2 separate regions of the Homo sapiens genome follow, and region 2 is linked to region 1. Evidence: fine-mapped expression QTL. A gene starts in region 1. The other region holds a variant in brackets. All regions are shown on one strand. Distances are from middle to middle.

Region 1 (2,897 bases):
GGACCTCCCCTCACAGGGGGTCTGTAACCACCAGGTCTATAAAACAGCCGACCCAATCTACTTGCTGGCCTTCTGTCTTCCAGTAGTCCTCCTAGTCCACCACTAGGGCATGGGATAGAAGATGCAAAGCAGACACTATACCCCCTGCTCAAACCTACCCAAGGTTCCCTCCATAGGAAAAACTGCCCGGGAGTCTTCCTGTCCCTTTCTTCTCCCTATGTTCCGAGTCTCCTCCAGCTCCCAGCCTTTTCAACTACCTGGGCTATGCCCACTGCCTTAGTGGATCCTGGGGCCCCACTCATGCACCCATCAGGCTGAGCTTTGGCCTGTCTTGACTGCCTTCCCCACCTGGAGCCCATGGCCCCCTTCCCAACTCTGCCCATCTCAGGACACTTTGGATATAGACCCAACTGTCTCCTCAGATGGGGCCCCAGCAGCACCAGCACTGGGCCTGGCCCACAGTCACACAGCAGTATTGCCTCTGCAGGCTTGGTTCCCCACTGGCTTGAGTTTCGCAGGCACCCTAGATAAGGACCACAGCTTCCTTCCTATATCCACAGGGTGTCCAACGGTCACCAGGTTGGGGGCCCAGACCTCCTGTGCCCAAACCCTACTGTTTTCCCATCTTAACCAAGGTCCTGCCGTCCGGCAGGTCTATGCTGGGGGTTTTCTAGTCGTGGGCGGGCAGCTGAGCCCCCTCCTTCTACTCACCTGCTCCAGAGGGGGCCTCCTGGCTCCCCTTACCTCTCCTGAGCTTGAGGCCAATTAAACACTGGTCAGTAACAGGCACCCCCCTCCCCTCACCTCCCACACCATTCACAGGGCTGTAAGCCCCTCACCTGCATCAGCCACCTCTGCAGCAGCCGCACCCTTTGGTCTAGAGGGAGGAAGCCCCAGGATCCGCCCCTAGGGCTGAGCCCGGGGCTTCCCCGCGGCCTTAACCCCTTCAGTGCCGACCCCACCCACTGTGGGCGGGGCTCCGGGGTCCTCAGAGAGTGGCTTCTCCGTCTCTCCCGGGCCTCGGTTTCCCCCTCCCTCCTAGTGGGTCACAGGCTGTGGAGCTTTTGGGAATGAGGACTTCGAGAGCTCGACTCTGTGGGCAGGTGTGGCTCGGCATGGTCTGGAAACGAACGACTGACGCGGGGAGGGCGTGCAGGGTGGCATGGCCACTTGGGGACCGCACGCGCGGGGTGGACCTACAGGCAGCAAATGGGAAGGGTGCGGTACTGACATGTTGATGCTGGCCTCTGGGATGTTCCGCGTCCTAGCTCCGCACAGCTGGGTATCTCACTCAGTCGCCACCTCGGACTCCTCGGTCCGACAACGTTGGCCCCCAGCGGTGCGGCGGATGTTCTGCAGCCGTCGCGTCCTGCGGCACGCCACGGCGTTCTAAGGCCTCCCAGCACCCGCGCGTCGCCGCTTAGAACCCGCCCCTGGTTTGCGCGTCACAACACCCGCCAGGCGCCGACTCAGTCTCTACCCTGGCTCCGCCCCTGCTGAGCCCCACCCCATCTCCATTTGAGTCCGCCTCCTCCCCACCCGGCCCCATACAGGCCCCTCCTCCTTCTCCTTGCGTCACAGCTTAGGTCCCGCCTCGATTTGGCTTCTTCCAGGCCCTGCCCCAGCCCAGCACGTCACTTCAGCCAGGCGCAGGCCCCGCCTCCAGCTGGCTCTGCCTCCGCCAGCCCCGCCCCAGGCTCTGACAAGTCTAGCTTCGGTTCCCGCCGGCCTCCTGCCCCAGGACAGCTTGGAAACGGTCCGATCAGGTGGGGCTTCCTCTTGAAATTTGGGCCCCACCCTGGGAAGCAGCCGCCCTTAGACTGACGTCAGATCTGGTGAGAGTGACAAGCCTTTCCTGTGCCCTTTGGATACCGGGGCCTGGACATTTTAGGCGCTCAGTAAACAGCTAAGTAAATCATGACTGCTTTATTTGCTGGACTGGTGCCTCTCAGCAGATTCAGGGGTCGTGCAGGGCTGGTTACCACAAACTCAGTAGGAGTGCAAGGGCTGTACCCCCGGAGCTAGACAGCCTGGGTTTGAATCTCAACTTCTCCCTTTTCTTGCTGTGCAACCTTGGGCAACGTGCTTACTCTCAATGTGAGTGACTCAGTTTCCTCATAGCCTCATTGTGAGGAATGAATAAGTCCACATAAAACGCTTAGCACGGGGATTGGCAAAGAGTAGGCACTCAGTGAATGTCAGCCTTTGTGATTGCTGCAGTTCAAAGACTGGCTCAGTGTCTCTGGAGGAATTGTCTATGACCTTGCCAAGTAGATGCATATGGACATGGAATGAATGGTGTCTGCTGTGGTTCTAACTCCTTATGCCACTATTCCAGTCTGTAAGTATGCATGTGTGTGCAGGGAATATGCCTGTGACAGTGGCTGAGTGTACTCTTTACTGTGACCATGACTTGTATGACTGTGCATGTATTTGAGGAAGCCCTGGCCAGACCCAGAGTGCATTAGGTTCTCAATATGTGCAACTCAGTGTGTGGCCAATCACCACATGCTCTTCCGCTCACACCACGGTGCCTGCCAGCCAGGGTAGCATCGACATTTGAACTCCACAGCCATCTGTGCCTGATCTTCAAGTGAGAGGGCACCCCGCAGGCTCAGGGGCCCACCACCAGGCGTGAGCTGGATGGAGAAACTGGCAGGGTTAAGGAGGAGGAGGGCTTTGGGGTGGCTGGTGCGGCGGACACAGCGGCCATGGCCGGAGCACAGGGCTTGACTGCAGAGAAGGGCCCCACTGGTCACGTTCAGGATGAAGGGCCCCAGTGTAGTGTCCATATACTCCTTGATGGCCTGACATGATTCCTAGGTGGGAAGGGAGGATAGCGTCAGGGACACCATGGCCATGTATGGACCCACCCAGGGCACTGAGGCACTCACCTG
Region 2 (2,897 bases), 54 kb before region 1:
TATCCTCTCACAGTGATGCTCAAGTTATAGCTGGCAATTTAGGACTTCATTCTTTCCCTAATATTATGCTTGTTCTCCCATAAGCCCCAGTCTTAGACTGAGACCAAGCCTGGGGAAGGCTCAGAAGCTATTGAAGTCCATGGTGAGGGCCTCTGAGACTGGGAATTGTCCAGAGGAGTGAAATGAAAGCATGTTCCTTAGGGCTGCACTGTGAGCACAGGCTCAGTGCTGGGTGCACGTACGGTACTGTGTGGTGGTAGAATGTGGCCATGGTGTTGGCTGATGACTGCATGATAGTTGTTGAGGCTGGTTCCTCTTGCTCCTTGGCCTCCGAATCTCAGTGCTGTGGCCTAGTGGGGCCTTGCCCTCTCTTGTAGGGGTTCCTAGGGGTTCTGCTGTGTTGCCAGGCCAGGCCGTAAGGGACTGAGGGGGCTGAGGAAGGCTTAGGAGAGCCAGAGCAGAAGCGTCCAAGCCTCTCTGGGCCATGAAGCCATGCACAGAGCAGAGACCCGTGCATCCTCATGGCCACCCAAGACTGTGGGTCCCAGAGGGTCCAGTTCCTCACCATGAGACCTCAGACTGTCCTCTTCCCTCTCTGTATCCAGCACTAGAATCTGTGATGCTGTGATTTTTTTTTTTTTTTTCTGAGACTGAGTTTCGCTCTTGTTGCCCAGGCTAGAGTGCAGTGATGCAATCTCGGCTCACCACAACCTCCGCCTCCCAGGTTTAAGTGATTCTCCTGCCTCAGCCTCCAGAGTAGCTGGGATTACAGGCATGTGCCACCATGCCCGGCTAATTTTGTATTTTTAGTAGAGACAGGGTTTCTCCATGTTGGTCAGGCTGGTCTCGAACTCCTGACCTCAGGTGATCCGCCCACCTCAGCCTCCCAAAGTGCTGGGAATACAGGCGTGAGCCACCCCGCCCCGCCAGTGCCGTGATTCTTAGCATGGTCTCCTGGCCTGTGGACACAAGGACAGCTGCTGGCTTGGGTTGGGCCCTGAGGCAGTTTGGGGTGACTTTGAAGAGGCTACTCAGGGCAGGCCTTGGGTTTGGCACCCTCCCTCAAGGGGTACATTTCATAGATGAGGCCTAGGCTCCCGTTATCTTTCCCAGAGTCCACCGCCATGAATCAGAAGGGAAAAGAGGTCATTCAGGTGCCTTGGGAACAGCGGAGGGATGCCTGAAATGAAGAGGCCTCCAGGGAGACGGTGCCAAATGGCCCAGCTCCGCGTGATCCGCGTCTTGTCCAGCACCTCCTGGCTCCTGCACAGGCGGTACCTGGGGCCTGAGGCGCCAGCGATGAACAGGTCTGGGGCCTCCTTTATATCAGGCCAGCCTTCCTCACCCGGTGCCTGAGTTTCCCTCTGTGCAGTGGAAAGGGCCCCACTGAGGGAGACACACCTTGCCCCAGAAAGACTTTCCCATGTGTGGGCAGGACCTGAGGCCTCAGTTTCCCTAACACAGAGATCTCTGACTTGGCAGTAGGAAGCCAGGCCCTGCTTGGTAGTGCTCCCCTTTGGGCACTGTGAACCCCTGGAAGCCGCTGGAGGCAGCCGAGTGCCAGAGACTGGCGGGAGGGAGGTGTGGAGTCTGTTGGTCTGTTCAGGCATCCGTTATAGGGCCATGCCACACACA[T/C]GGGTGGGAGTGTTGCCGGTCCCTTTCAAGACCTCGAGTCCCTGCCTCCCAGTGCCGGACCCGTGCTGAGCCTTCTCGGAGGGAATGAGGGGGGCCGGGGAGCAGCACCTGGAGGAAGGAAGAGACGCCAGGGGCGGGGCTCAGAGGGCCTTTGTCTGGCGGGGTCTCTGCCCCTCCCTCCCGTTGCCATGGTTTCTGTGTGTGCCGAGTCTCTGCAGGCTGGGGGCTTCCCAGGGACGGGCTGGTGGGTGGGACACCTTCCCCAGTCGCCCCTGGCTGAGGCTGCTTTTCTGAAACAAAACGCTCCCCAGTGCTGCCCAGCCCCCACTTCCTTCCACAGTGTCTCCGGCTGCCGGGCGCCCCCTGGTGGTGGCGGGGCATGGGTCCCTAGGACTGCAGGGGACGTGGGGGTGCACGGGATCTGAGAACCACAGGCTGAGCTGGAGATGTGGCACCTTCCTGGGATAAGAGAAGGAGGTGGTGTCCGGGCTGCCTTTGTGGTGGGCTCAGGGCTACCCCCACCTGCCCCACCATATCCCACTGGGATAGGCTGGGGAGTTGTGGCAGTGTGGGCGGGCCTGGTGTTGTGGGTTTGAGCTGGGCCGCTGCCCAAGTCTACCCTGTGGTCCCAGCCGCTGCTGCTTCTGAGAATCTCTGCCCTCGGGCCTGCCACGTCAGCTGGCTGCTCTTCCTGGCCCCACGTGTTCCCACGGAGCCCACCAGTATGGGGGTTCTCTCCAGGGAGGTGTGCCTGGCTTTCTGGGTGTGTGCAGCCAGTGAGCAATGTCAGCAGTGAGGCTCCTGGGCAGGAAGGAGGCCCCAGCTGTGTAGGAGTGCCGGGTTATACTGAAGGGAAGTGACGACACAGCGGAAAGCCAACAGAGGAGCCAGTAGCTCTGACTCCTGTCCCAGGTTATGCTGAGTCCCAGCAGGGAACCACCACAGCTCTGAATCAGCCTGTTAGCCGCTGTCCATTGCTCTTCATCTGCTCTTTATCTGAAAATCTTCAGAAGCTTTCCTTCAAATGAGATGACCACAGCAGTCTTCTCTGCAGGTTGCAGGAAATGAGAGGTTTGGGGAAATCTGTACTCTTTCAAAGGGTAGATAAATAGTGATAACTTTTACCTGAATGCTCACATGTGCCCCACACTGTGAGAAGAGCTTTGCATTTAATCCTTACCCATCTCTCAGAAGGAGACAGCGTTGTCCCATTTCACAGATGAGGTGCCAGAGAAAGGGCAGGAAAGGAGCTGAAGCTCTTG

What was found. PIP is the estimated chance that this variant, and not a neighbour inherited with it, causes the effect.
Region 2: its variant is fine-mapped to the expression of NAA80 in whole blood (TOPMed, PIP above 0.99).

Annotation. Positions count from the first base shown.
Region 1 is chr3:50,297,982-50,300,878 of GRCh38, forward strand. NAA80 (N-alpha-acetyltransferase 80, NatH catalytic subunit) reads right to left here and starts at 1,424. Exons shown (of 2, transcript NM_001200016.2): 1 at 1,232-1,424. HYAL3 (hyaluronidase 3) reads right to left here and starts at 1,424. Exons shown (of 4, transcript NM_003549.4): 1 at 1,232-1,424. It overlaps HYAL1 (hyaluronidase 1), which reads right to left. Exons shown (of 4, transcript NM_033159.4): 4 at 1,912-2,819. The coding sequence ends at 2,502. RefSeq lists an enhancer at 1,018-1,157.
Region 2 is chr3:50,244,370-50,247,266 of GRCh38, forward strand. All of the region lies in intron 1 of GNAI2 (G protein subunit alpha i2), which reads left to right. Among named protein-coding and RNA genes, the nearest start is that of GNAI2, 9.6 kb to the left of the region's middle. RefSeq lists enhancers at 1,270-1,985, 1,718-1,817, 1,986-2,701. The variant T/C (reference allele first, on the strand shown) is at 1,636.